Regions from separate parts of the Homo sapiens genome. Here regions 1, 2, 4, 5 and 6 are each reported to be linked to region 3. The links are microRNA targets in miRTarBase. Many come from high-throughput screens and were not tested one by one. Region 3 holds a microRNA gene; each other region holds the end of a gene's coding sequence.
What was found. Region 3 holds the annotated microRNA hsa-miR-1273h-5p (CUGGGAGGUCAAGGCUGCAGU, at 1,113-1,133, opposite strand). A microRNA usually pairs through its seed, bases 2 to 8, with sites in the 3' UTR of a target mRNA and lowers its output. Matches are read on the target gene's strand: a 7mer-m8 pairs with bases 2 to 8, a 7mer-A1 pairs with bases 2 to 7 and ends in A, and an 8mer does both.

Region 1 (5,069 bases), not on the chromosome of region 3:
CAGAACAAACTGCAATAAAACAACAGAGGATGAATCCAGAATGTGATTGATTTTTTTTCTTACTAGGAAAGGATCTAGAGGCCAGAAGGCTGGATTTTTCAGGATCTCCTTTCAATCAATGAATCTGTGATAGAAGCAGATGAATCAAATCTCATCTTTGTGTGATTATAAAGCTGTCTGTGGTATTCACGCCACCAGGGGTACATAGAAGATGCCTGAGTGAGGTTTGGCAAAAGTACTAAGGGCCTGTCCACCTATACATGCCCTTCTCAGGAAAACCAAGGTTCAAGCTCTCTATTAGCTCAACTGGTAAGGCGTAAGACATGGAAGGTTGAGGCCCAATGTTAGAAATAGATGGATACATAAAACTTCATCAAGTTAATGTCACTTTTTCTCCTTTATTTATAGGAAGTACATTTGAAGAACGCAAGTAGAGGGAGTGCAGGAAACAAGAACTACAGGATGTAGGAAGACCCTCCTGAGGAGTGAAGAGTGACATGCCACCGCAGGATCCTTTGCTCTGCACGAGTTACCTGTTAAACTTTGGAACACCTACCAAAAAATAAGTTTGATAACATTTAAAAGATGGGCGTTTCCCCCAATGAAATACACAAGTAAACATTCCAACATTGTCTTTAGGAGTGATTTGCACCTTGCAAAAATGGTCCTGGAGTTGGTAGATTGCTGTTGATCTTTTATCAATAATGTTCTATAGAAAAGAAAAAAAAAATATATATATATATATATCTTAGTCCCTGCCTCTCAAGAGCCACAAATGCATGGGTGTTGTATAGATCCAGTTGCACTAAATTCCTCTCTGAATCTTGGCTGCTGGAGCCATTCATTCAGCAACCTTGTCTAAGTGGTTTATGAATTGTTTCCTTATTTGCACTTCTTTCTACACAACTCGGGCTGTTTGTTTTACAGTGTCTGATAATCTTGTTAGTCTATACCCACCACCTCCCTTCATAACCTTTATATTTGCCGAATTTGGCCTCCTCAAAAGCAGCAGCAAGTCGTCAAGAAGCACACCAATTCTAACCCACAAGATTCCATCTGTGGCATTTGTACCAAATATAAGTTGGATGCATTTTATTTTAGACACAAAGCTTTATTTTTCCACATCATGCTTACAAAAAAGAATAATGCAAATAGTTGCAACTTTGAGGCCAATCATTTTTAGGCATATGTTTTAAACATAGAAAGTTTCTTCAACTCAAAAGAGTTCCTTCAAATGATGAGTTAATGTGCAACCTAATTAGTAACTTTCCTCTTTTTATTTTTTCCATATAGAGCACTATGTAAATTTAGCATATCAATTATACAGGATATATCAAACAGTATGTAAAACTCTGTTTTTTAGTATAATGGTGCTATTTTGTAGTTTGTTATATGAAAGAGTCTGGCCAAAACGGTAATACGTGAAAGCAAAACAATAGGGGAAGCCTGGAGCCAAAGATGACACAAGGGGAAGGGTACTGAAAACACCATCCATTTGGGAAAGAAGGCAAAGTCCCCCCAGTTATGCCTTCCAAGAGGAACTTCAGACACAAAAGTCCACTGATGCAAATTGGACTGGCGAGTCCAGAGAGGAAACTGTGGAATGGAAAAAGCAGAAGGCTAGGAATTTTAGCAGTCCTGGTTTCTTTTTCTCATGGAAGAAATGAACATCTGCCAGCTGTGTCATGGACTCACCACTGTGTGACCTTGGGCAAGTCACTTCACCTCTCTGTGCCTCAGTTTCCTCATCTGCAAAATGGGGGCAATATGTCATCTACCTACCTCAAAGGGGTGGTATAAGGTTTAAAAAGATAAAGATTCAGATTTTTTTTACCCTGGGTTGCTGTAAGGGTGCAACATCAGGGCGCTTGAGTTGCTGAGATGCAAGGAATTCTATAAATAACCCATTCATAGCATAGCTAGAGATTGGTGAATTGAATGCTCCTGACATCTCAGTTCTTGTCAGTGAAGCTATCCAAATAACTGGCCAACTAGTTGTTAAAAGCTAACAGCTCAATCTCTTAAAACACTTTTCAAAATATGTGGGAAGCATTTGATTTTCAATTTGATTTTGAATTCTGCATTTGGTTTTATGAATACAAAGATAAGTGAAAAGAGAGAAAGGAAAAGAAAAAGGAGAAAAACAAAGAGATTTCTACCAGTGAAAGGGGAATTAATTACTCTTTGTTAGCACTCACTGACTCTTCTATGCAGTTACTACATATCTAGTAAAACCTCGTTTAATACTATAAATAATATTCTATTCATTTTGAAAAACACAATGATTCCTTCTTTTCTAGGCAATATAAGGAAAGTGATCCAAAATTTGAAATATTAAAATAATATCTAATAAAAAGTCACAAAGTTATCTTCTTTAACAAACTTTACTCTTATTCTTAGCTGTATATACATTTTTTTAAAAGTTTGTTAAAATATGCTTGACTAGAGTTTCCAGTTGAAAGGCAAAAACTTCCATCACAACAAGAAATTTCCCATGCCTGCTCAGAAGGGTAGCCCCTAGCTCTCTGTGAATGTGTTTTATCCATTCAACTGAAAATTGGTATCAAGAAAGTCCACTGGTTAGTGTACTAGTCCATCATAGCCTAGAAAATGATCCCTATCTGCAGATCAAGATTTTCTCATTAGAACAATGAATTATCCAGCATTCAGATCTTTCTAGTCACCTTAGAACTTTTTGGTTAAAAGTACCCAGGCTTGATTATTTCATGCAAATTCTATATTTTACATTCTTGGAAAGTCTATATGAAAAACAAAAATAACATCTTCAGTTTTTCTCCCACTGGGTCACCTCAAGGATCAGAGGCCAGGAAAAAAAAAAAAAAGACTCCCTGGATCTCTGAATATATGCAAAAAGAAGGCCCCATTTAGTGGAGCCAGCAATCCTGTTCAGTCAACAAGTATTTTAACTCTCAGTCCAACATTATTTGAATTGAGCACCTCAAGCATGCTTAGCAATGTTCTAATCACTATGGACAGATGTAAAAGAAACTATACATCATTTTTGCCCTCTGCCTGTTTTCCAGACATACAGGTTCTGTGGAATAAGATACTGGACTCCTCTTCCCAAGATGGCACTTCTTTTTATTTCTTGTCCCCAGTGTGTACCTTTTAAAATTATTCCCTCTCAACAAAACTTTATAGGCAGTCTTCTGCAGACTTAACGTGTTTTCTGTCATAGTTAGATGTGATAATTCTAAGAGTGTCTATGACTTATTTCCTTCACTTAATTCTATCCACAGTCAAAAATCCCCCAAGGAGGAAAGCTGAAAGATGCACTGCCATATTATCTTTCTTAACTTTTTCCAACACATAATCCTCTCCAACTGGATTATAAATAAATTGAAAATAACTCATTATACCAATTCACTATTTTATTTTTTAATGAATTAAAACTAGAAAACAAATTGATGCAAACCCTGGAAGTCAGTTGATTACTATATACTACAGCAGAATGACTCAGATTTCATAGAAAGGAGCAACCAAAATGTCACAACCCAAAACTTTACAAGCTTTGCTTCAGAATTAGATTGCTTTATAATTCTTGAATGAGGCAATTTCAAGATATTTGTAAAAGAACAGTAAACATTGGTAAGAATGAGCTTTCAACTCATAGGCTTATTTCCAATTTAATTGACCATACTGGATACTTAGGTCAAATTTCTGTTCTCTCTTCCCCAAATAATATTAAAGTATTATTTGAACTTTTTAAGATGAGGCAGTTCCCCTGAAAAAGTTAATGCAGCTCTCCATCAGAATCCACTCTTCTAGGGATATGAAAATCTCTTAACACCCACCCTACATACACAGACACACACACACACACACACACACACACACACACACACATTCACCCTAAGGATCCAATGGAATACTGAAAAGAAATCACTTCCTTGAAAATTTTATTAAAAAACAAACAAACAAACAAAAAGCCTGTCCACCCTTGAGAATCCTTCCTCTCCTTGGAACGTCAATGTTTGTGTAGATGAAACCATCTCATGCTCTGTGGCTCCAGGGTTTCTGTTACTATTTTATGCACTTGGGAGAAGGCTTAGAATAAAAGATGTAGCACATTTTGCTTTCCCATTTATTGTTTGGCCAGCTATGCCAATGTGGTGCTATTGTTTCTTTAAGAAAGTACTTGACTAAAAAAAAAAGAAAAAAAGAAAAAAAAGAAAGCATAGACATATTTTTTTAAAGTATAAAAACAACAATTCTATAGATAGATGGCTTAATAAAATAGCATTAGGTCTATCTAGCCACCACCACCTTTCAACTTTTTATCACTCACAAGTAGTGTACTGTTCACCAAATTGTGAATTTGGGGGTGCAGGGGCAGGAGTTGGAAATTTTTTAAAGTTAGAAGGCTCCATTGTTTTGTTGGCTCTCAAACTTAGCAAAATTAGCAATATATTATCCAATCTTCTGAACTTGATCAAGAGCATGGAGAATAAACGCGGGAAAAAAGATCTTATAGGCAAATAGAAGAATTTAAAAGATAAGTAAGTTCCTTATTGATTTTTGTGCACTCTGCTCTAAAACAGATATTCAGCAAGTGGAGAAAATAAGAACAAAGAGAAAAAATACATAGATTTACCTGCAAAAAATAGCTTCTGCCAAATCCCCCTTGGGTATTCTTTGGCATTTACTGGTTTATAGAAGACATTCTCCCTTCACCCAGACATCTCAAAGAGCAGTAGCTCTCATGAAAAGCAATCACTGATCTCATTTGGGAAATGTTGGAAAGTATTTCCTTATGAGATGGGGGTTATCTACTGATAAAGAAAGAATTTATGAGAAATTGTTGAAAGAGATGGCTAACAATCTGTGAAGATTTTTTGTTTCTTGTTTTTGTTTTTTTTTTTTTTTTACTTTATACAGTCTTTATGAATTTCTTAATGTTCAAAATGACTTGGTTCTTTTCTTCTTTTTTTATATCAGAATGAGGAATAATAAGTTAAACCCACATAGACTCTTTAAAACTATAGGCTAGATAGAAATGTATGTTTGACTTGTTGAAGCTATAATCAGACTATTTAAAATGTTTTGCT
Region 2 (4,000 bases), not on the chromosome of region 3:
TGTGGTCAAATTAAACACAAAGGAAATTAAACGCAAAGGAAAACAGTGGACTCAATTTCCTAGAATCCAACAGTGGAATCAATTTCCTAGAATCACTTCAGATTCAATTGAAATGATGATGCCATCACTCTCATGCAATCCTGTTTGCCATTTACCCAAAATGATGTAATAATTACACTTGTATGAAATAAGGTCTGTTTTAAATTATCCAGCTTACATCCTTCACTATAACACTCTCTGTATAATATTCTTATGACATATACAAGATTCAAGAAGCCAATACCTCAGTCCACAGCAAGGAATAAAATGCAGCCACTGGTTACCAGTACTATGTACATATGTACACAGATATGTCACATTAGAACAGCAATTCAGAGTTAATTGCCTTGGGGCAAGTTGGTCATATAAAATAAATAATACAGGTCTTGGGAACAGCTTTGGAGCTTTCTATATGTGTTGTTTATTCCTATGATGAAAGAATTTTAGATACAATTAATTAAAAAAAATTTCCCTAGCTGTCCCTCCCCCAACCTATGTTAAGAGTACAAATTGCCAGTGGAGCAGCAGCAGAGCACTGCATTAATGGAGACCTGGGCCTGGCATCGTGCTGGGGTCTCAGAAGCACATGGCCATTCCTGTCTTCATTTCTAAAAGACTGTAAAACCATCCCAAAATTTGGCACCATGGGGACTATTGGCAATTCGAACTCGAGCTAGCTAGGGAGTCTAGGAAGCCTTGGGTGACAATTCCAAAGCTTTGGCAGTGCTGCTTAGGGAAGCTTCACATGCAAACATCTCAAATCAATTTCCCTAATGGCTAGATTCAGCATTCCCAGGTCCCTGGGGAGCAGCCAGTGTACCATAGGGCACCCCCAGGAGTGATGTCTGCACATCCCCAACAGCTGGAAAAGGGCTAGGGAGAGAGAGCTCCAGAAGGAAGGGAACAAAATACTCTGATTTTAGATATAACTATCCTAACAACTATTAATGAAACTGCTACAGTTTTGCCTAGAACTTCTATCTTTTGAAAATCTACAAGCCATAGTAGGGGGGAAAGAGGCAGTAATGGGAGTAGGATATATACACTCTATTTGGTTAACATCAGAAATGAATTAATTGTACAAAGCAAAATTTAGAAGACGCCTTGTGAACCTCAATTAGAGAGAAAGTTATGTAACTCGTGCACTCAGCACCATCTGTTAAGAAATTCTGCAGGGCACGTAACCACTGATTTACTAATTTAGTAGCTTTTCTTTTTCATCTTTATCAAAACACTGTTGCTTTCATTTTAGACAATAAAAATAACCGGAATTTAAAAATGTCTTTTCCTTGCTATTATACATTTTTGTGCTACGTTAAAAATAAAGAAAGTTGGCTATGGGCTGTAAAGTGCTGACACCATTGGTGCTGATTTCAGTTTGATGGTGGGTGGGGGCAACTCTTAGGAGTCAGAATGTCCTGAATTTCCAAGCAAACTCAGCCGCCTGGCCTGGCCATCTCAGCACTGCTCACAGCCAGCATTTGTTTTCCACATTCCCTTCCCTGTCCCCACCCCAAATATTAATACACACATCCACATATTCAGTGTCTCCCCATAGGCAAATGCTTAAATCTAAAATGGTGGCAGATATTTTTTACTAGAAGATTCTATGGCTAAAAAACAATAACCAAGGTTCTGTAATGCTGGAAAATACAGTATACAAAAGTAAGCAAATCTCATGGGAAATCATTAGCAATTCTCAGTGCAGTCAAAGAAAGTTAAGTGCTTGGAGAAATCAAGACAGATTGCAGCCCTCCACATCTACAAGGCAATTTCTTCACTCTCTCAAATTCTCTCCTGGACACTGCTTTGGGAAAACTCTACAGCAGCAGGAGGGGAGAGGGCAGGGTTCCACGGCGAGGAGGTGGCCGGTGAATGTGGCATATGGGAAGCTATAACCACAAATGCTCACAGGGAAAGAACAAAACCAGGTGGATACAGAGGGCTGGGAGGCAACGGAAGTTTCGTTTGGCTGTTTGAGTCACCTTAGGCAAAGAGAGTGACCCAGCATTTTCTCTAAATAATATAAAATACCAAGGTTGGAAAAATGATAAATTAGCGATACAGGAAATGGAGAGCAGCAAGCCAGGCCCCTAAATAATTCTGGCCCACTTATCAATATGGGTTCACGCTTGAATTCCTGACTTACTGTGTTGCAACTGCCAGGTCCCTTTGCTGCCTCCCCTGCAGGCCTGCAGGCCACGGGGCGGTTTGTATTTGCCTGGGGAAAGCTCCCTGATGTGGATGGAGATTTGCAACCAAATGTTGAAGACTGCTGCCTTTCCATTGTCAAGGAGAAGCTTATCCCAGTAGTTTCCCACCAAATCCCAAGCTGCAGTAGCTGGGAACTCTGCACCTGGCTTCAAGGAACACACATACAGTTATAGGCTGCTGCTTCTCAGAACACTGCCTGACACTTGAAAACCACTTGGAAAGGGGCAAGGAAAAACACAAAAACTGGCAGCTGGAGCTCAATTCAGGGTGGTAACCTCACCAGCTCACTCCTTTCTCAATGCAAACAGCTTACTTGCCAGGGAACACTGTGACTCATTCAGTATCATTTCCTTCATCTACTGTTGAAAATGGAAGGAATCATGGTATTGTGGCTTGCTTTTTTCATTTCCCCTAACGTGGTTTCTTGGTCACGTAAGATGAAAAATCAGGGTATCTGTTGGTGAATTTAACAGCTGCCTATTACATATGGTAAGGACTAAGCAAAAGGTTAACGGTCATGCATGATTAGGATAAATGCACAAAGGCTGGTCAGGTGGTATACAAAGTCTATTTAACTATTAAAGGAAGCAAGGGAAGAGGGTTATCTCTGCTGTGCAGGCAGTTGCCACTGGTCTCTCATTCTCTCTGCTTCTCGCAGTCCCCAAGAGCAGCCAAAATAGTAAACCATTCCAAATCTGCTTCCAAGCTGCTACTGAGCAGAAAACATGGGCTCAGAAGGACAAAGCATTCTCAGGACAGCTCTGTCTCTTGGCAGAGGGTGTTGCCACATCAGCCCCTGACCACTCACAGGTGACGCAGTGGCCTGTCTCCTGCAGCACTGGGTGGTCTGTCCTGTCCACTGTTACAAAGAGAGGACACAACAGCTGATGCCTGGAGGACCCTGAACAGGATCTTGAAAAGAATCTTCAGGGAGACTAAATGACACATATGCTATTCACTTCATATATGTGACTCTACAGCTATTTACTTATATATTTTGGACACTGGATGAAAGAGTTGGGAAAACATGAAGAAACCATTTTCCAGTTTCTTAACTACATTGGCCAAGGGCACCCTCTGTTCGTCACTGATTATAGACCTAAGACCACCAGGGAGGGGGGATTCCATGTCTGGGGTGGATGATCCTAATTACAACTCCCACACTTTTCACTAAATTAAAAGAGACCAGTGTGTTGAAAGTCCTTTAGTCTAAGGCAGCTGAGACCCCTGAAGGGTTCACTGCTCTTCTGTTTTGCTGCTATTTCTGAACTTCACCACCATGACTGTTATATTGTCAGGGCAGCCTCTGTAAAATGACTGTAAAACTATGCTCTTGGCCCCAAAGTGAGGTTCATCCAAGCGCTCCTTGATGAATCGAACTGCTTCTTCATTGCTGAAAGCATCCCAGAGACCATCTGATGCCAAGATCATGAACTCAGGCTGAAGCTTGTCCAGGTCAAAGGTCAGGATGTCTGGGTCTGGGATGACCACGTTGAGATTTTTCAGCGGATAATCCCCCAGGGACCGAGACATGGCCAGGATTCCCTGGACCCTCCAGGAGCCATTGAAACTGATGAAACCACCTAGAAAGACAGGATGAGCCCATTAGTTTGACCAGCTGATATCTCACTTACCTGGGATAGTCTAGGTACGTGCGCAACAGGGTGACCTACTTCATGTGAACTGGGCTGTGGGCACTCCCCTTAACCCCATCACTCCTGGGACCCACTGCATGGCCTGGGGTTTT
Region 3 (5,148 bases):
AACCTGGGTACCAATCCTGGCTCCAACAATTCCCAGCTATACAACCTTCAAGCAAGTTAGCTAAGTCCCCTAAGCTCAAGTTTCTTGTAGGGTGTGGCGAGAATGACTTGATAAAATTCACATCAAATACTTAACATGGTAGCTGGTGGTTACTGCTGAGGGCTGACTGACCCATTCATGTCCAGTGAGTAAGTCTGACAGGGCTGTGCTCTGGCTTGAAAGAGGTCCTGTACGCTCTGCCAAACCCTAAATTCCTACCCATATTCCCATCCCAATTACAAGCAGAATGAGGACCTGCCAGTGCTACTTTAGACATAGAACAGAAACCTTCCCACTTAGCCTGGTGCATCACGGCAGGAAGCTACAAGACAAAGCCAGGCCCTGGGGCTCCCAGTTAGAGGAAGTGAGAAAAAGACGTGTACCCTGGGAAGAAAAAGGGATGCATTTCCGTTCCCATCCAAGCCTCACTTCCTTAGAAAGACATTTCAGGTAGATTAACACACCATCTCTGTGCTGTTTTCCATATGCCATTTGGGGGGGCATTTTGTGGTTATTTTTAAGAGACTGCACTTGTAACAAAACAAAAAGTAAGCTTTCTGTTTTCCTTTCTGGGTCATGAGCTGGTCTCAACCCTCCAAATTCAACTGTCACTGGAAGTCTTTGTGGAGTTGGAATTTCTATTGGGAGTGGCTGTGAAGGTAGGAAGAACATCAGCAAATGTGGTGATATGGTTTGAATGTGTTCTCCCAAAGTTCTTGTGCTGGACACTTAATCCCCAATGCAACAGTGTTGAGAGGTGGGAACTTTTGGAGGTGACTGGATTGATGTTATTATTGTGGGAGTGAATTTATTTAAAAAGTAAGTTACCCTCCCTCATGTGTTCTCTTGCCATGTGATGCCTTCTATCAGGTTACTATGCAGCAAGAAGGTCCTCCCCAGATACAGCCCCTGATCTTGTACTTCCCACCCTCCAGAACCATGAGCCAAATAAATTTCTTTTCATTGTAAGTTATCCACTTTTTTTTTTTTGAGACAGGGTCTCACTCTGTCACTCGAGCAGGAGGATTGCTTAAGCCTGGGAGGTCGAGTCTGCAGCAAGCTGTGACCACGACACTGCAGCCTTGACCTCCCAGGCTCAAGCAATCCTGCCTTAGTCACCCAAGTAGCTGGGACTACAGGCATGTGCCACCCCACCTGGTTGATTTTTGTAATTTTTGTGTGTGTAAAGACAGATTTTGCCATGTTCCCCAAGCTGGTCTCAAACTCCTGGGCTCAAGCTCAAGTGATCTGCCCATGTTAACCTCCCAAAGTGCTGGAATTACAGGCATGAGCCACTGCACCAGGCCCCAGTTTCAGGTATTCTTATAGCAGCACAAAACAGACTAAGACAGACACACAATGTCATAAAAATGAAGGAGAAGAGGGGCTTAAAAAGAAAGAAGGCACTCTGAACTTTTCCTACAGATAAACTCACTTATATAGGAAACTAGGAAGTTATTCAAAGGGTGATGTAGAGTTAGATAAGCAGATAAGAAACAATCTCCAAGACAGAGGGGAATAATGCAAGATACAGAAATTGTACACAGCATGCTAACATCCTTGTGTGTGATGTAGACTATTTCTGGGCCTGAACACATCTTCTCTAGAAGGTCACACAAGAACCTGGTTGCAATGGGTGTCTCTGGGAAGGAGAACCAGGAAGCCTAGCTAGGAGCCATGGGTGAGGGGAATCTTAATTTCACTTTGTAGCTTCTGATGCTGCTTGAATATTTTATTTTTTCACATTTTTTTAAAGGAGAAAGGATTAGAGCACCTAATAATATGGTGAGGTCAAGAAAGATGAGACAAGCTTATGAGAAGAGGCAGTTTTCAGGTCATTGATGACTCAATGAGAAAAATATCAATAGGATGGCGGGAGCAGAAGCCAGATTGCACCAAACTGAGGAAACAATAAATTGTCATCAAGTGGAAATAGCAGGAACTGGCAACTCTTTCAAAAGTGTGTTTGTATGCAAAGTAAGGTAGGGTAGTAATCATAGCAGTAGTAAGAGTAGTAGTAAGGAGGATTCCCAGGTTTGAGGTAGGGGATTTTTAACATGAAAAAGACATAGCAGGTTTATGCACAAAGGAGAAGGCCAGGATAGAGTCAGAAAGGACAGCTGCTGTTTTTGCCCAGCCAGCAGGCATTGTCTTTTCTTCTAGTGACAGTGGCTTTATTTTTCTTTTTTTCTTTTTTTTTTTTTTTGAGACGGAGTCTCGCTCTTTTGCCCAGGCTGGACTGCAGTGGCGCTATCTCAGCTCACTGCAAGCTCCGCCTCCTGGGTTCACGCCATTCTCCTGCCTCAGCCTCCCGAGTAGCTGGGACTACAGGTGCCCGCCACCGCGCCCAGCTAATTTTTTGTATTTTTTAGTGGAGATGGGGTTTCACCGTGTTAGCCAAGATGGTCTCGATCTCCTGACCTCATGATCCACCCGCCTCAGCCTCCCAAAGTGCTGGGATTATAGGCGTGAGCCACCACACCCGGCCATGACAGTGGCTTTTTTTTCTTAAAGGAGATATTCCTTCTCTTCTTTCAAAATGTCTGATTTAGATAGGACATTCCTTCTCTTTTTTCAAAATGTCTGGATTAGATCCAGCTCTCTGGCTAAGAGGGGCTGGTGACCCAGGCCCGGTCAATCAGCACATTCCATCCCCCTGGTGCAGTGAGCAATTCCCTTAGAGATGGGCATATGACCCAATAATCTTCCAAAAAGATTGAGTCCTAGGCTGCTGGGATTTTATAAAAAGGAAGCCCTTTTCTTTGGTAGAAGTTGCAGAGATAATGGGACATAAATTGGGAGTTGCTATGTGCCCAAGAAAGCCTTCTGAGAATGAAGAATGAAGTCAACACAGTGGGGAAAGTAATCCTAAGGGATATAGATAAATGTTTCCCTGCTGGCATTGTTTGGGACCAGATGTAGATGATCCATCTACATCTGAATACTAACTATCATTATTTTTTGCTTAAAAGTCAGTTTAAATCAGATTCCTATTTGAAACCATAGGAGTTTTGTTGATACAGAGAGAAGCTGTAGACAGACTAAACAGGGGAGATAAGCATGAAGGATCAAGAGGCTGGAGTCCAGAGCAGGAGTGAGGGTAAGTCTCACATGAGTTGGGGGAGGGAAAACATATTTGCTAAGACAGAGATGGAAGCTGGGCAAGGAGGTCAAGATGACTATGGAGGTGCCGGTAGGTGGTAAGAAGCTGACGGCTACCAACCAGTGGCACCCATGGGCCTCAATCTTCCTCACGATTTAGGGCAGGGATCCCCAATCCCTGGGCCATGGACCAGTATCAAAATAACAATAATAATAATAAATAATAATATAATAGTACATGACTCAAAGTCATGTATCTGGTAGGTTCTATGGTTGACTTGCCCCGCCAAAGTTCATGTGTTAGAAACTGAATCTCCAATGCAACAGTGTTGAGAGGTGGCACCTCATGAGAACTTAACAACATTATCTTGGTAGTGGGATCCTAATAAAAGGGATGAGTTTGGCTCCGTATCTTTCCCCTGCATGTGCACACACATGTATGCATATGCATATATATGCACACACATGCACGCATACTCTCTCTTGCCCTTCACCTTCTGCCATGGGATGACACAGCAAGAAGTCTCTCACCAGATGCAAGCCCCTCACCCTTGGACTTCCCAGCCTCCAGAACTGTAAGAAATAAATTTCTTTTCTTTATAAATTATCTAGTCTGTGGTATTCAGTCATAGCAACACAACATGGACTAAGACAGAAACTGATTTAGGAACTTCACCTGGCTCAGGAACCTGACAATTCCAACCATCTAAAGGGAGCCTGGTTTGATCTGAAGTTTAAATGGGTTCTCCATGGGTGTGTAGATAGGTGGAGAGAGATAAACAGACTCCAAGCTGTGTGTCCTAAATGGCTCTTGGCTATTTGTTTGTCAGTATATAAATGTAGGTTGATATTTTTATTAAGATCTCTGCAAACTCCACACAGTGGATACCCCAAAAGAACAACCAGAAATGAGCAGGGAAACCTCTACTCCTTAATGAGCCTGTCTCGGCTGCCTCATTTCAATGCTGCCATGCCCTTCTTTCAGAGGTTAGTCAATGCATGCCGTCTTTGTCAGCCTCAAAATCAAAGCCCTAAGGAACAAATAAGATTTGCATCTTTTAAAATCCTGACAACGAATTATAAAAGCTGTGAAGATGCTACTTATTTGTTGCAATATTTTAAAATAAATTTAAATCATTTGAATTGTAAGAATACTCAGTCTTTTTCTATTATGTAACAGACACCATTCGATGGTGTTATCATGACTCTCCTGGTAGCACAATCACAAACCTTACCAGGGGCTCCAAGTGCTTCTAATAATCTTTACAAGGGTCTTGTGCAGTGTACAGTCCAGGGATCAAGTCCTGGCTCCTCTGCTTTCTAGTTGCTGGACCTTGGGCAAATGCCTTAACTTTTCCAAGCTCTAGTTCCTCATCTATACTGTGGTGATAACCCTACCTTACAGGGTTGAGAGAATTAAATGAGGCAATTCATGGAAGGCAGTTAAAACAGTGCCTGATGCAGACAAAAATGCAATATATTTTCTAATATATTTGAACAGTAAAGGTTTTATGAGAATTATTTTAAATCACAATTTTCAAAAATGAATTGTTCTCTTGAGTATTTGATACTTTGGGGGAGTTAGGTTCTGTGCTTAAATAAATCACATTGAGTAAGTGTTAGATCCTTTTCTTAAGGCTTGAATTTGGAGTTTTAACAGCAAACATACAAAGGTTACACTTTCTGGATTCAATTCAGAAATGTCAGCACATCAAACACACACATTCAGACACACACACACAGAGGCACTTACTCATACAGTGTAAAGGGCAATTGGGTTTGGAAGAGAATGTCACATGAACAGATTCGCAGCTCATTAAAGCAGTACTTGAAGCTTTTGACCTCAGCTACATAAACAATGTTTTCAGATGATAAAATTGCTGAGAAACCAAGTCCTGTGAGTATGATTTAGTTTCTGAAGCAGTTCAGCATTTAGACTCTCAGAGGATACGGGCAATGGGATGTGATCAGATAGCCCAAGTAGTATTTTGGAAATGATACTAACAG
Region 4 (4,198 bases), not on the chromosome of region 3:
GATCCACCCGCCTCAGCCTCCCAAAGTGCTGGGATTACAGGCGCGAGCCACCGCGCCCGGCCTAGAATTCTTGGAGATAAAGCAAGTACATTTGGAGTAGTTGCCGTGACAGCATTACTAGACCCTAATTGTATTTTCTTTTTTAATTTGAAGGCACAGAGCATGGAGAATGATGAACTTCCGTCAGCGGATGGGATGGATTGGAGTGGGATTGTATCTGTTAGCCAGTGCAGCAGCATTTTACTATGTTTTTGAAATCAGTGAGACTTACAACAGGCTGGCCTTGGAACACATTCAACAGCACCCTGAGGAGCCCCTTGAAGGAACCACATGGACACACTCCTTGAAAGCTCAATTACTCTCCTTGCCTTTTTGGGTGTGGACAGTTATTTTTCTGGTACCTTACTTACAGATGTTTTTGTTCCTATACTCTTGTACAAGAGCTGATCCCAAAACAGTGGGCTACTGTATCATCCCTATATGCTTGGCAGTTATTTGCAATCGCCACCAGGCATTTGTCAAGGCTTCTAATCAGATCAGCAGACTACAACTGATTGACACGTAAAATCAGTCACCGTTTTTTCCCTACGATTACAAAACTGCCAGTCCTATATGGAGTCTGATCACAAGACTGCAGTTTCTTCACAGATCTCAGGAAGTTGTCGTGGGGCAGAGGCTTTTTAAAAACATGTGATTAGGGAGCTATCTTTATCTGAATAATAACGAATTTTTAGGTAAAACCTGAGATAGAGTACTACAAAATCATGTTGATGACTTCAGATTTTGGAAGTTAAATCATGTCTGTTATTTGCATTCTTTAGAAACTTGACTAAGTACCTGAATTCATATTTCTATTCTACTGTGCAACATAGTGATGATTCAGAAATTTTTCCTTTGGGGAAAAAAATGAATATGAACATTTCCATTGTGTTAAGTGTAAAAAGGTCCAGACATGATCATAAAATTTAAATTTTATACAATTACTTGGCTTGCTTTAAAATTCTTCACACTTAAAACACCGATTCATTCTATTGCAGCTAAGCCAGCTGTCTAGACTTGCTGTCAGCTTATGAGGCATTGCTAAAAAATTATTGAGGAAATGGCTGTCTTGATAAGCAGAATTTGTTCTTCCTCTTGGTAATGGCTAAATTATTATTAATGCTTTTAATGGTTTTATTTTTTATATTTTTCTTTTTTGTGGAGAATGGGGTCTCGCTATGTTGCCCAGGCAGGTCTCGAACTCCTGGGCTCAAGCTTTCCTCCTCTCTCTGGCTCCCTAAGTGCTAGGATTACAGGTGTGAGCTACCATGCCCAGCTATTTTTAATTAAAAAAATTTTTTTTTTCCATGACTTGTGACACAGTCTCAGAAGGCCCTGAGAACGTACGCTCCAATGCTACTGATTTAGAAAACTATCTGGGAAGAAACTAAGTGTTAAATGTTGAAAGGCTAGAAATAACTTACAAATAGAAGATGGAAACAATGTGTTCAATGAAAATCTAGCAGGTTATTTATTATTTATTTAAATTATTATTATTATTTTTGAGACGGAGCCTTGCTTTGTCACCCAGGATGGAGTGCAGTGGTGCAGTCTTGGCTCACTGGAACCTTCGGCTCACTGCAACCTCCACCTCTCGGGTTTAAGCGATTCTCTTGCCTCAGCCTCCTGAGTAGCTGGGATTACAGGTGACCACCACCATGCCTGGCTGATTTTTGTTATTTTAGTAGAGACAGGGTTGCAGCATGTTGGCCAGGCTGGTCTCAAACTCCTCACCTAACTAAGGTAATCCACTTGCGTCAGCCTCCCAAAGGCCTGGGATTACAGGCATGAGCCACCATGCCTAGCTGTATTTATTTATGTTATTTATTTTGAGATGGAGTCTTGCTCTGTAGCCCAGACTGGTGTGCAGAAGTGCGATCTCAGCTCACTGCAACCTCCACCTCCCAGGTTCATGCTATTCTCCTGCCTCAGACTCCCGAGTAGCTGGGATTACAGGCACCCACCACCATGCCTGGCTAATTTTTGTATTTTTAGTAGAGACGGGGTTTCACCATGTTGTCCAGGCTGGTCCCGAACTCCTGACCTCAAGTGATACACCTCAGCCTCCCAAAGTACTAGGATAACAGGCATGAGCCACCATGGCCAGCCTATAGCAGGTAATTTAGTCCAGTCCTTATCAGATGCATGAGACCCCTCTAAAAGATGCTATCAAGTCATAATCTTTCTGATTTTCTTTTCTGGCCCAAGGTCAGGTCATCAGGCAGTAGGTTAATTACATGAAGATGTGTTCCTGTACCTTCTCCTTTGCATTTGTACTACCTCACATCTGGTACTAATACAAATAACTAAAACATGGACACAGTAGCATTTCTTTTCTGCATGAGATCAAGATATATTTTTATACAGTTATGTCATTAATACTGGAAAACATTTTATGCTTTTAATAATCAACACTTTTTGATGCTTATTCTGTTGGGCCCTATTCTAAGAGCTTTATGGAAATTAACTAATGTAATCCTCCCAACAACCCTATAAGATGGGTATTATTATCCAGATTTCACAGATAAGGAAACTGAGGCAGAGAAGTCAAGTAACTTGCCAAAGGTCACAGCGAGTAGCAGAGCCAGGGTTATAACCAGGCATTCTAACGCCATCGTTACTAACCACAGAGGCATAGCGCTTCTCACAAATGACAAATGTTTTAGCACTGGGTACTCTTTGCCCAGTCATGCCAAAGAATGGAAATGGCAATAGTATTGACAAGTTTTTCTCTATTTGTCTACTAGAAATCTGAAAGTTTCCTAGCAACCTCATCTTTCCACTACATCTGACTGAACCCGAAAGGAAGGCTGAGTATTCCATAGCAAGCTGTTACTTAAAAGATAAAGCAGGTACCTTTGTGATGTAAAAGTAGCAGATCAGATCCTTCAGATCAATTAGTCTCATTTATCTCACTGCCTCCAAAGGTCTAGTTACTGAAATGATATATCTTTTGATATAACACGTGGAATCCTCAAAGTAAGCAGCAGTTTGAAATACTTGTTTTTGTGAGGGTCAGATGACCAAATCACTTGCATCTTTTAAGTATTCAGTATGCATGTTACAGACATTGTTTATGAGTGATTTACATTTATTCTTCACAACAGTCCTGGGAGGCAGGTATTATACTGCTACTAGTGTCATTTTACAGAAGAAACCTGAAACACGTAGGAATAACTTGTCCATAGTCACATAGCCAGTATGTGAAAGAGCCGATTTGAACCTAGGATGTTGGCTTCAGATCTCCAGCTTTTTATCATTCTATACTGCTTCTCAAAAAGGAGAGTAATTTGAGGGAAATCATTGAGAGTTGCCAGTTTTATTAGTCTTGAGGCAGTGATTTAAGAAAATTATTTCAGTTTTGTTTTGTTTTATAAATGCTTTATGTAGGCTGGGAGTGGTGGCATCTGTAATCCTAGCACTTTGGGAGGCAGAGATGGGAGGATAGCCTGAGCCCAGGAGTTCATGACCAGCCTGGGCAACATGGCGAGACCCCATTTCTATTAAAAAGGGGTGGCTCATGCTACTCCCAGCACTTTGGGAGTCTGAGGTGGGCAGATCACTTGAAGCCAGGAGTTCAAGACCAGCCTGGCCAACGTGGTGAAACCCTGTCTCTACTAAAAATAGAAAAATTAGCCACGGCTGGTGGTGCATGCCTGTAATCCCAGCTACTCAGGAGGCTGAGGGAGGAGAATCGCTTGAACCCAGGAGGGAGAGTGGCAGTGAGCCAAGATCGCATGGGCCACAAGAGCAAGATTCCATTGCAAAAAAAAAAAAAAAAAAAAAAAAAGGTTATGTAATGCAAGGTTTGTGAGGTTGCCACTGGTATTGCAAAGTTTTCTTAATGAAGTTGATTCATCTCTTTTTATACTTCAAATTCTAGTATTTTGGGATTTGGTAAGCAAATGTTCAGTCCATCTCTATCTTTCAAGATTATATTGCCTTTTGCCTTGATAGAAGAAATAGTAAAATAATTAGAGTAGGATTAATGTAGTAAATTCAGTATTTCCAAATGTAATTACTATATTTCAGATTGCAGGTTTAATCTGCTTTTTGATTAGGAGCTATTTATCCAAGTTGTGGATTATTTCTGGTTTGTGGCTATTTAATAGTTCAAAGCATTTTTTAGGTAAGGTAAAGAGGGAAAAGTGAAATATAT
Region 5 (5,148 bases), not on the chromosome of region 3:
TTCAGCCAGACCAGGCCCGCCTTCATCTGCTGCTCTTGTTTAAGAAAGGGATCTGCTGCTTCTAGTTGAAAATTCACCACCTGGCCTCACGCCCCTTACCATACAAATGGAGAGGCAGAGGCCAGAGAAGAACTGGGACTAGGAACTCTGGGGAGTGTTCCAGGAAGCATTCCAGGAGGTCGGGGTCTGTGACACCTTCCAACAGTGTCTAGACTGGGCTCATGTCCTGTGTGGTGGCTTTAGACCATCTGGTGCATTCATTCCTCACCTGTGGCTCTCTTTCTAGCCCCCACCATGCCGTGGCCCCTGCTGCTGCTGCTGGCCGTGAGTGGGGCCCAGACAACCCGGCCATGCTTCCCCGGGTGCCAATGCGAGGTGGAGACCTTCGGCCTTTTCGACAGCTTCAGCCTGACTCGGGTGGATTGTAGCGGCCTGGGCCCCCACATCATGCCGGTGCCCATCCCTCTGGACACAGCCCACTTGGACCTGTCCTCCAACCGGCTGGAGATGGTGAATGAGTCGGTGTTGGCGGGGCCGGGCTACACGACGTTGGCTGGCCTGGATCTCAGCCACAACCTGCTCACCAGCATCTCACCCACTGCCTTCTCCCGCCTTCGCTACCTGGAGTCGCTTGACCTCAGCCACAATGGCCTGACAGCCCTGCCAGCCGAGAGCTTCACCAGCTCACCCCTGAGCGACGTGAACCTTAGCCACAACCAGCTCCGGGAGGTCTCAGTGTCTGCCTTCACGACGCACAGTCAGGGCCGGGCACTACACGTGGACCTCTCCCACAACCTCATTCACCGCCTCGTGCCCCACCCCACGAGGGCCGGCCTGCCTGCGCCCACCATTCAGAGCCTGAACCTGGCCTGGAACCGGCTCCATGCCGTGCCCAACCTCCGAGACTTGCCCCTGCGCTACCTGAGCCTGGATGGGAACCCTCTAGCTGTCATTGGTCCGGGTGCCTTCGCGGGGCTGGGAGGCCTTACACACCTGTCTCTGGCCAGCCTGCAGAGGCTCCCTGAGCTGGCGCCCAGTGGCTTCCGTGAGCTACCGGGCCTGCAGGTCCTGGACCTGTCGGGCAACCCCAAGCTTAACTGGGCAGGAGCTGAGGTGTTTTCAGGCCTGAGCTCCCTGCAGGAGCTGGACCTTTCGGGCACCAACCTGGTGCCCCTGCCTGAGGCGCTGCTCCTCCACCTCCCGGCACTGCAGAGCGTCAGCGTGGGCCAGGATGTGCGGTGCCGGCGCCTGGTGCGGGAGGGCACCTACCCCCGGAGGCCTGGCTCCAGCCCCAAGGTGGCCCTGCACTGCGTAGACACCCGGGATTCTGCTGCCAGGGGCCCCACCATCTTGTGACAAATGGTGTGGCCCAGGGCCACATAACAGACTGCTGTCCTGGGCTGCCTCAGGTCCCGAGTAACTTATGTTCAATGTGCCAACACCAGTGGGGAGCCCGCAGGCCTATGTGGCAGCGTCACCACAGGAGTTGTGGGCCTAGGAGAGGCTTTGGACCTGGGAGCCACACCTAGGAGCAAAGTCTCACCCCTTTGTCTACGTTGCTTCCCCAAACCATGAGCAGAGGGACTTCGATGCCAAACCAGACTCGGGTCCCCTCCTGCTTCCCTTCCCCACTTATCCCCCAAGTGCCTTCCCTCATGCCTGGGCCGGCCTGACCCGCAATGGGCAGAGGGTGGGTGGGACCCCCTGCTGCAGGGCAGAGTTCAGGTCCACTGGGCTGAGTGTCCCCTTGGGCCCATGGCCCAGTCACTCAGGGGCGAGTTTCTTTTCTAACATAGCCCTTTCTTTGCCATGAGGCCATGAGGCCCGCTTCATCCTTTTCTATTTCCCTAGAACCTTAATGGTAGAAGGAATTGCAAAGAATCAAGTCCACCCTTCTCATGTGACAGATGGGGAAACTGAGGCCTTGAGAAGGAAAAAGGCTAATCTAAGTTCCTGCGGGCAGTGGCATGACTGGAGCACAGCCTCCTGCCTCCCAGCCCGGACCCAATGCACTTTCTTGTCTCCTCTAATAAGCCCCACCCTCCCCGCCTGGGCTCCCCTTGCTGCCCTTGCCTGTTCCCCATTAGCACAGGAGTAGCAGCAGCAGGACAGGCAAGAGCCTCACAAGTGGGACTCTGGGCCTCTGACCAGCTGTGCGGCATGGGCTAAGTCACTCTGCCCTTCGGAGCCTCTGGAAGCTTAGGGCACATTGGTTCCAGCCTAGCCAGTTTCTCACCCTGGGTTGGGGTCCCCCAGCATCCAGACTGGAAACCTACCCATTTTCCCCTGAGCATCCTCTAGATGCTGCCCCAAGGAGTTGCTGCAGTTCTGGAGCCTCATCTGGCTGGGATCTCCAAGGGGCCTCCTGGATTCAGTCCCCACTGGCCCTGAGCACGACAGCCCTTCTTACCCTCCCAGGAATGCCGTGAAAGGAGACAAGGTCTGCCCGACCCATGTCTATGCTCTACCCCCAGGGTAGCATCTCAGCTTCCGAACCCTGGGCTGTTTCCTTAGTCTTCATTTTATAAAAGTTGTTGCCTTTTTAACGGAGTGTCACTTTCAACCGGCCTCCCCTACCCCTGCTGGCCGGGGATGGAGACATGTCATTTGTAAAAGCAGAAAAAGGTTGCATTTGTTCACTTTTGTAATATTGTCCTGGGCCTGTGTTGGGGTGTTGGGGGAAGCTGGGCATCAGTGGCCACATGGGCATCAGGGGCTGGCCCCACAGAGACCCCACAGGGCAGTGAGCTCTGTCTTCCCCCACCTGCCTAGCCCATCATCTATCTAACCGGTCCTTGATTTAATAAACACTATAAAAAGTTCTTTGCTTTACTCAGCCAGTGTCCACTGGCAATCCCTGGGCTGGGCTCTGGGGCCACAAAGATGAATCAGGTTAGGCCCTGCCCTGGGCAGCTTGTTCTCCCTGAAAAGCCTGATAATCTCAGGATTTGGGGAGTAAGGTGACGTGAAGGAGGGAGTTCCTGCACCCTGTTCACCTCTCATCTCCCGTGGCCCTACCCCACTGTTCCTGCCACCCCAGCTCCAGCCATAGCCATGAGCATGCAGGCCCTTGCACACCTGTTCTCTTGCTCAGGCGTTACTGTGGGACCTTGCCCTTGCCCTCACCCCTGTCTCTCAACCTCCTTCCTATCCAGTAGACCTAGTTCTTGCCCGCCCGCAGAAGCTTCCTTGGCCCCTTCCACCTCCCTCCTCTGAACTGCAACAGTATTTTGTTCTTCCTTGGTGCTTCAGCTGCTATGGTACCCCAGCTCCTGTTTGCACACTTCCACTGACAGAGATCACACTTGGAGCTCATCTGGGTGGCTCTGCTGTCACCAAGTTCTTCCTTCTAACTGGCCAGTCTACAGGGAATGTCTACCATCATCACCAATGACAGGTTTTTCCTGATCCCTACTCTGTGCCCAGAACATTCAGGCCATATGCACTGGTGGGAGCTTGCCCATCTTGTAATCAGGCCTCCCCAGGGAGAAGTATCAGCTTGAGGCCCTGGGTCCGAGGCTGGCACCCAGCGGTCAAGGTAGGAAAGAGCTGAGGCTTGGCGCCGGGCGGTGTGGAGGAGAGGGAGGTCAGGGTGAGACCCCGGGCCCCCACAGTCCTCCTGTTTGTTCTCCACTTCCCCTACATTTCCTGGGACAGGAGAGGATTCAGATGGAGGTAGGGATCACGGTACTTTCACCCAATGGGTCCGGGTCTTCCCAAGTCCCCGCTTGTGGAAGGAGTCCTTGCGGGAGGGCCATGGAACAAAAAGGCCTTAAAGACAGGGCCAAAGCGTGCGGAGGGCAGCGAAGGGAAGGAGGGGGCTTCTGCGGCAATCAGTTCTGGAGCAGGTCACCTCCGCCCGAGCTGCAGCTTCCTCCTCTGCAAAACGGGGCAGGGTGAAGGCCCAGTGAGAGCATGGGCGCGGATGCCATCACGCTGGGCGGGCTCGTCCTTCCCGTGGGGAACCTGCCCTGCACCCCGCAGCCCTGGCCTCCTGCCAGCCATAAGGAGAGCGGAAGCCCCGGCGGGCCTCGCCGACCCGGGAGTCCGCGCGGCCCCTCCCTGCCCGTGCGGAGGCTCCCGGCCCGCAGCGCCACCTCGTGCTCACGCATGGCCAGACACCCCAGATCCCAGCGGGGCCAAGAGCCAGGACCGGGGCGGCTGGAGGCCAAAGTGGGCTGCGCTGTTTGCTTTATGCGGCCAGTCCCTTCCCGCCCACCAGACTACCCTCGCCCTGCCGGACTCCGCCCTCCAGGAACCCTGGCGCCCAGGGCGAGGGCTTCGAATCTTACACAATCAGGAAAATTCGTGCAAAGAATCCGTTTTGGAATTCACAGAAAAGGGTTGAAATCTTGGGGTCATCACTAACCAATTGTGTGATTTTTGGCCAGGTCACTTTACTTCTCTGAGCCTGGAAAATAGGGATGAAAATATCTCCCTCAAGGCCGGGCACGATGGCTCCTGCCTGTAATCCCAGCACTTTGGGAGGCTGAGGCAGGAGGATCGCTTGAGCTCAGGAATTCAAGACTAAGACCAGCCTGGGCAACATAATTTAAAAATCTAAAAATTAACCGGGCATGGTGACGCCTGTAGTCCCAGCTACTTGGGAGGCTGAAGTGGGAGGATAGCTTGAGCCTGGGAGGTTGGATGACAGAGTTAGACCCTGTTTAAAAAAAAAAAAAAAAAAAGCAAAGAGAGAAAAATAAAAATAAAAGAAAGACAAAAAAGAAAGAGAAACAAACAAAGAAAGAGAAAATACCTCCCTGAGCCTGGGAGGTTGAGGCTGCCGTGAGCCGAGATTCTACCACTGCACTCCAGCCTGAGTGACAGAGCTAGACCCTGGAAAAAAAAAAGAACGAAGGAAGGGAGGGAGGGAGAGAGAAAGGAAGAAAAGAAAGAAAGAGCAAAAAAGGAAGAAGGAAAGAAGGAAAGAAGGAAGGGAGGGAGGGAGGGAGGGAGGGAGGGAAAATATCTCCCTCCACAGGACTGTGTGTAGAAGAAATGAAGTAACATTTGTAGAGAACCAAGTACGGTGCCTGGCACAAAATGGCAGCCTCTAAGTGCTCTTTCCCGCCCTCATCCAACCATGGAGTTATGAAGTAGATTACAGAGCCATGTAGTCTGAGTCTGTTTTTTATAACTCGCACT
Region 6 (5,025 bases), not on the chromosome of region 3:
CCAGAGGGGAGGGTGGAGAGTGCGCTGGCCCCTGGGGGCACTCAGAGAGGAGCTGCGTGTGTTTGGCACTGGTGGACATGGTGTGTGGCAGTGTGAGCCAACAGGCCAATGGGTGGCAAGCATAGGAGGCTTTATGGAGCACCCTGAAGAACCACTGTGTGGAGGGGAAATGGCCCCCTGTGAGGAAAGTCCTAGCAGCTGGTGGAGCGCAACCAGATGCGGGTCCAGACTGATGGGGTCTCCATGGCAGCCCAGGTGGGAGGCGGAGGAGGAGAAGGGAGACAGTGAGAAGGTTGTCACCAGGCCCTCACTAATACCCGGGGAGCAGCCCGTGTGCAAAGGAGGTGAAGGATGGTGGTTTTCTTTTGTTTGAGATGGAGTCTTGCTCAGTTGTCCAGGCTGGAGTGCAATGGTGCGATCTCGGCTCACTGCAACCTCCGCCTCCTGGGTTCAAGTGATTCTTCCGCCTCAGCCTCCCAAGTAGGTGGGATTACAGGCATGAACCACCAAGCCCAGCTAATGTTTGTATTTTTAGTAGAGACGGGGTTTCACCTTGTTGGCCAGGCTGGTCTCAAACTCCTGACCTCAGGTGATCCACCCACCTCAGCCTCCCAAAGTGCTGGGACTACAGGCGTGAGCTACTGTGCCCAGTCGAGGATGGGTTTATATTGGGAAAACCAAGCCTATCAAACTTGGTGAAAACGACCACAGGATGCAACCCTCTGGCCTGGGACCCACCCCATCAAGTGTGTGGGGGCTGACAAGAAAACAGCAACGGCTCCCGGACAGCTCCCAGCAGGGCTCACTGCTTAGCCCCAGCCTAGCGCTGAATGGGGCTGTTCCTGGCCCGACAGCCTCCCGAGGCCTGCTGCCAACACCGCACCCTTCCCACCCGTGTCCTGGAAGTGCTCAGAGGAAACATCTGCCCAGAACATGACATCACTAAATCATTAATGAGACAGTCACTATATGACATAAATCCACTTAGCAGAGCCTCACTCTCACCTAGCAACTGGGTCACCAGCAAACTAACCACTTGGTGTGACTCTTCCATTAGGACTGCGTGGCCCCGGAGCCTCAGAGGCCAACGTTCCCAACCAGGGACTCCACCCTTCTCCCAGAGGGAGGCAAAAACAACACAATGTAACTGAGAACCGGGTTGTAAAAACCGGTGGAAGAGCTGGGAACAGTTAACGGGGTGTCTTTCACTTCTGCGTGTAGGAGCCGAGGTGGAGCCGCCAGCTGTGCAGAGGACACCCCCTCCTGGGAGGTAAGAGGGCTCGCCAGAGCCAGCAAGGCGTGCGGGCAGGGTCCCTGTGCGGTGGTACTGGTTGTTTCTGAGGCAAACAGAACTCCCCCCCTTTTTTTTTTTGAGACGGAGTTTCGCTCTTATTGCCCAGGCTTGAGTGTAATGGCGCCATCTCGGCTCTCCGCAACCTCCGCCTCCTGGGTTCAAGCGATTCTCCTGCCTCAGCCTCCAGGCTAATTTTTGTATTTTTAGTAGAGATGAGGTTTCACCATGTTGGCCAAGCTGGTCTCGAACTCCTGACCTCAGATGATCCACCCTCCTCGGCCTCCCAAAGTGCTGGGATTACAGGCATGAGCCACTGCGCCCGGCCACAGAACTCCCCATTTTATACAGTGGGAAACAAAGGTGCAACGACCCCAGGGACAGGCTTGGGAAACAGCTAATAAACAGCAGAGCCAGGCCACAAGGCCAAGTCTGACTCGGGGATCTCCATCCCACACCCGCCATCAACAGCAAACACATTAAAACTAAACCCCACGGCTGGGCGCAGTGGCTCACACCTGTATTCCCAGCACTCTGGAAGGCTGAGGCAGGCGGATCACCTAAGGCTGGGAGTTTGAGACCAGCCTAGCCAACATGGTGAAGCCCCATCTCTACTAAAAATACAAAAATTAGCCGGGCATGGTGGTGTACACCTGTAATCCCAGCTACTTGGGAAGCTGAGGCACGAGAATCACTTCAACCCGGGAGGCAGAGATTGCAGTGAGCTGAGGTTGCGCCACTGCACTCCAGCCTGCTGGGCGACAGAGCGAGACTCTGTCTCAAAAACAAAACAAAACAAAACAAAACTTAAACACCAGGGAACACACACAACACACATACCAATAAGATCACGAAGAAGGAATGGCTGAAAAGCCCACCAATTGTAGTTTATTTGGAGTCCAGCCAAGTACCATTTGTGTTGAAAAGACCTATTTTTCCCTAATTGGCAGTGAAACATCATTAAATATATGTACTCATATACACACACACAATATGGCATGTACACTTGACACACGTCCATGCATGGGCACTGAGAGAGCCTGGGCAAGTCAGTTAAGACCCTTATCTGAAGGACATACCCTTGGTGCCATTTGGGAGAACAAACTCCTGTTACTAGCATTGCAACAAAAACAGGTGGCAAGCTTTAAAGATAAACTCAAGACAGCGAGTGAAACTTCAGCAAATACGTGTTAATACGACCATGAGTAAAAGGCCCTTCCTGGCCGGGCGCAGTGGCTCACGCCTGTAATTTCAGCACTTTGGGAGGCGGAGGCGGGAGGATCACCTGAGGTCAGGAGTTCGAGACCAGCCTGGCCAACATGGTGAAACCCCGTCTCCACTAAAAATACAAAAATTAGTTGGGCGTGGTGGCAGGCGCCTGTAAGCCCACCTCTTTGGGAGGCTGAGCCATGAGAATCGCCTGAACCCAGGAGGTGGAGGTTGCAGTGAGCCTAGATTGTGCCATTGCACTCCAGCCTGGGTGTCAAGAGTGAAACTCCACCTCAAAAAAAAAAAAAAAAAAAAAGACCCTTCCTAAGAACAGCACTGTAACTCATGAGTTATTACTCAAATGCATCTGTCCATCTACCCACCAACTCAGGTCCTCTCCATACACTCCTGTAAGTCACCGGGCTACCGGGAGACTGCATGGGAACAACCACGCTCGCGCAGCCTGTCCCGCAGCCATCGCTCCTCCCACAGCTCCTGGCTGCCCACGGCGCTTCCCTGTAGCAAACCCAGCTGCTGACGTCATAAAAGGCACACAGCCGGACCTGTCTGTGCTCATCTAGTTCCATTTACAACAGACTCATCCACAAAACCGAAGTGGTAGAAACAGGTCTTTTTGAAGCCAGGCGTGGTGGCTCATGCCTGTAATCCCAACACTTTGGGAAGCTTAGGCAGGAGTATCGCTTGAGCCCAGGAGTTCGAGAACAGCCTGGCCAACATGGTGAAACTCTGTCTCTACAAAAAAAACTTTAAAAAGTAGCTGGGGGTGGTGGTGTGTGCCTGTGTGGTCCCAGTTACTCGGGAGGCTGAGGTGAGCGGATCACTTGAGCCCAGGAAGTTGAGCCACAATGGCACCACGGCACTCCAGCCTGGGTGACAGGGCGAGATCCTGTCTGAAAAGAAAAAAAAAAAGAAAAGAGAAGAAAAGAAAAGAAAACAGGTCTTCCTGGGAGCACCTAGACAAAGGCCTTTGTAAAGATAAATTACCGAGGAATATTTCTAGTTGCCTGTTTTCTTCAAAATCACAGTCAAGTAAGCTGGGCGTGGTGGCTCACCTCTGTAATCCCAGCATTTTGGGAGGCCGAGGTGGGCAGATCACCTGAGGTCAGGAGTTTGAGACCAGCCTGCCCAACATGGTCAAAACCCCATCTCTACTAAAAATACAAAAATTAGCCAGGTGTGGTGGCACACGCCTGTAATCCCAGCTACTTGGGAGCCTGAGGTGGGAGAAATACTACCCAGGAGGCAGAGGTTGCAGTGAGCCAAGATTGTGCCAGTGCACTCCAGCCTGGGCGACAGAGCAAAACTCTGTCTCGGGAAAAAAAAAAAAAATCGCAGTCAAGTAAAAAGAAACGCAACTAAAAGAGCCGTCAGTTAAATACATTCCTCTCTCGTGGCAGGACGAGTCTATAAGATTTGTTTTGTTTTTAATTTAGTGTAAAGTTTTTTTAATGTTTAAACCTTGTGACACATCAAATTACATGCTTGAAGCTGTTACTTTCTGTCAAAAAAGTGAGTTTTTAATATGAAAATTCTGCTTAGGTTAAAAATTAAAAAAAAAAGAGCGAGTTTTATACATCCGCATGAATTGTTTCCTTTAGCACTAGTCAAACAGACTCCATAACCTTCCAAAGAAGTGCCTTCGTTTATTTACAGGGCTTAGGAAAGGAAAAAAGCTCTACAAAAGGGAAATTTCAAAATAGGGCTTCAGCAGGGGCCCAGGTGGAGTGAGTAGTTTTGATAAGGTCCAGGTGGGACTCACTTCCAGGTGGTGAGGACCGCTCTCCCCGAGTCTCTCGATCGGCCTGCTCTGGGCCCCAGAGACTGACCCTGACGGCTTCTCAGCTCCCGGTCAGCCCCGTCACCCTGGGCCAATTCTTCATCATACCTGGAGACAGAAACAGCCAGGATCACGGCAGGCTCTCTTTCAAAGGCAACAGGCAGGGCCACCAGGCTGCTGTGTGGCAAATATGACATCACCCAGAGAAGCGGCCTGAGGGGGCCCCACCCTCGCGACTCCTGCTGGCTCCCGCCCACCTCCCACCTGGCTCCAGCCCACCTGCCTGCCAGGTGGCTCTCGCAGCCCAGCAAATGCTCCCCAAGGCCAGCCTGCCTATGTGTACAACCTTGTTGTTATTGTGGACAGTGGTCTCCCCTCGGAAGCTGACATTTTATACAGGTCACCAGGTCAAATATGGCAATGACTCCAAAGGCAACATGCATGAGGTGACACAGAACCAGCCCAGGGTAAGTGAGGTGAGACTGCCTGGCTGGAAACGCTTCACACAAGGCACCTGCAGGCTGGGGGGACTAACTCCATTCCAGATGGGAGTGGTACATGAGCACTGGTCAGTGGAGGCCAGGGCAGAGAGGCCCCACGGTGCACACTCAGCTAGAGACTCTGCCAGTGTGACCCACGCCACCCCTCCCCATTTTCTTTTTTTTTGAGATGGAGTTTCACTCTATCACCAAGGCTGGTATACAGTGGCGCAATCTTGGCTCACTAC

Region 1: miRTarBase lists IGF1 as a target of hsa-miR-1273h-5p. The part of its 3' UTR that is shown has no 7-base or 8-base seed match.
Region 2: the mRNA of PPM1L is a reported target of hsa-miR-1273h-5p. Seed matches in the 3' UTR shown: 7mer-m8 at 1,986-1,992.
Region 4: the mRNA of LYSET is a reported target of hsa-miR-1273h-5p. Seed matches in the 3' UTR shown: 8mer at 1,801-1,808, 7mer-m8 at 1,940-1,946 and 8mer at 2,103-2,110.
Region 5: the mRNA of TSKU is a reported target of hsa-miR-1273h-5p. Seed matches in the 3' UTR shown: 7mer-m8 at 1,990-1,996 and 7mer-m8 at 2,411-2,417.
Region 6: miRTarBase lists TTLL1 as a target of hsa-miR-1273h-5p. The part of its 3' UTR that is shown has no 7-base or 8-base seed match.

What each region holds. Positions count from the first base shown.
Region 1 is chr12:102,397,906-102,402,974 of GRCh38, reverse strand. IGF1 (insulin like growth factor 1) reads left to right here. Exons shown (of 4, transcript NM_000618.5): 4 at 409-5,069. The coding sequence ends at 468. All of the region lies in intron 6 of LINC02456 (long intergenic non-protein coding RNA 2456), which reads right to left. Among named protein-coding and RNA genes, the nearest start is that of IGF1, 80 kb to the left of the region's middle.
Region 2 is chr3:161,068,647-161,072,646 of GRCh38, reverse strand. PPM1L (protein phosphatase, Mg2+/Mn2+ dependent 1L) reads right to left here. Exons shown (of 4, transcript NM_139245.4): 4 at 1-3,836. The coding sequence ends at 3,490. Among named protein-coding and RNA genes, the nearest start is that of B3GALNT1, 35 kb to the left of the region's middle. RefSeq lists an enhancer at 2,902-2,951.
Region 3 is chr16:24,199,133-24,204,280 of GRCh38, reverse strand. MIR1273H (microRNA 1273h) reads right to left here and starts at 1,165; the gene lies at 1,050-1,165. All of the region lies in intron 16 of PRKCB (protein kinase C beta), which reads right to left.
Region 4 is chr14:93,186,107-93,190,304 of GRCh38, forward strand. LYSET (lysosomal enzyme trafficking factor) reads left to right here. Exons shown (of 2, transcript NM_001098621.4): 2 at 154-2,357. The coding sequence ends at 565. Among named protein-coding and RNA genes, the nearest start is that of LYSET, 2.9 kb to the left of the region's middle.
Region 5 is chr11:76,795,323-76,800,470 of GRCh38, forward strand. It overlaps TSKU (tsukushi, small leucine rich proteoglycan), which reads left to right. Exons shown (of 2, transcript NM_015516.4): 2 at 287-2,822. The coding sequence starts at 295. The coding sequence ends at 1,356. Among named protein-coding and RNA genes, the nearest start is that of TSKU, 15 kb to the left of the region's middle. RefSeq lists an enhancer at 1-874 and a silencer at 3,857-4,116.
Region 6 is chr22:43,035,500-43,040,524 of GRCh38, forward strand. TTLL1 (TTL family tubulin polyglutamylase complex subunit L1) reads right to left here. Exons shown (of 11, transcript NM_012263.5): 11 at 4,017-4,406. The coding sequence ends at 4,277. It overlaps TTLL1-AS1 (TTLL1 antisense RNA 1), which reads left to right and starts at 3,086. Exons shown (of 3, transcript NR_125362.1): 1 at 3,086-4,765.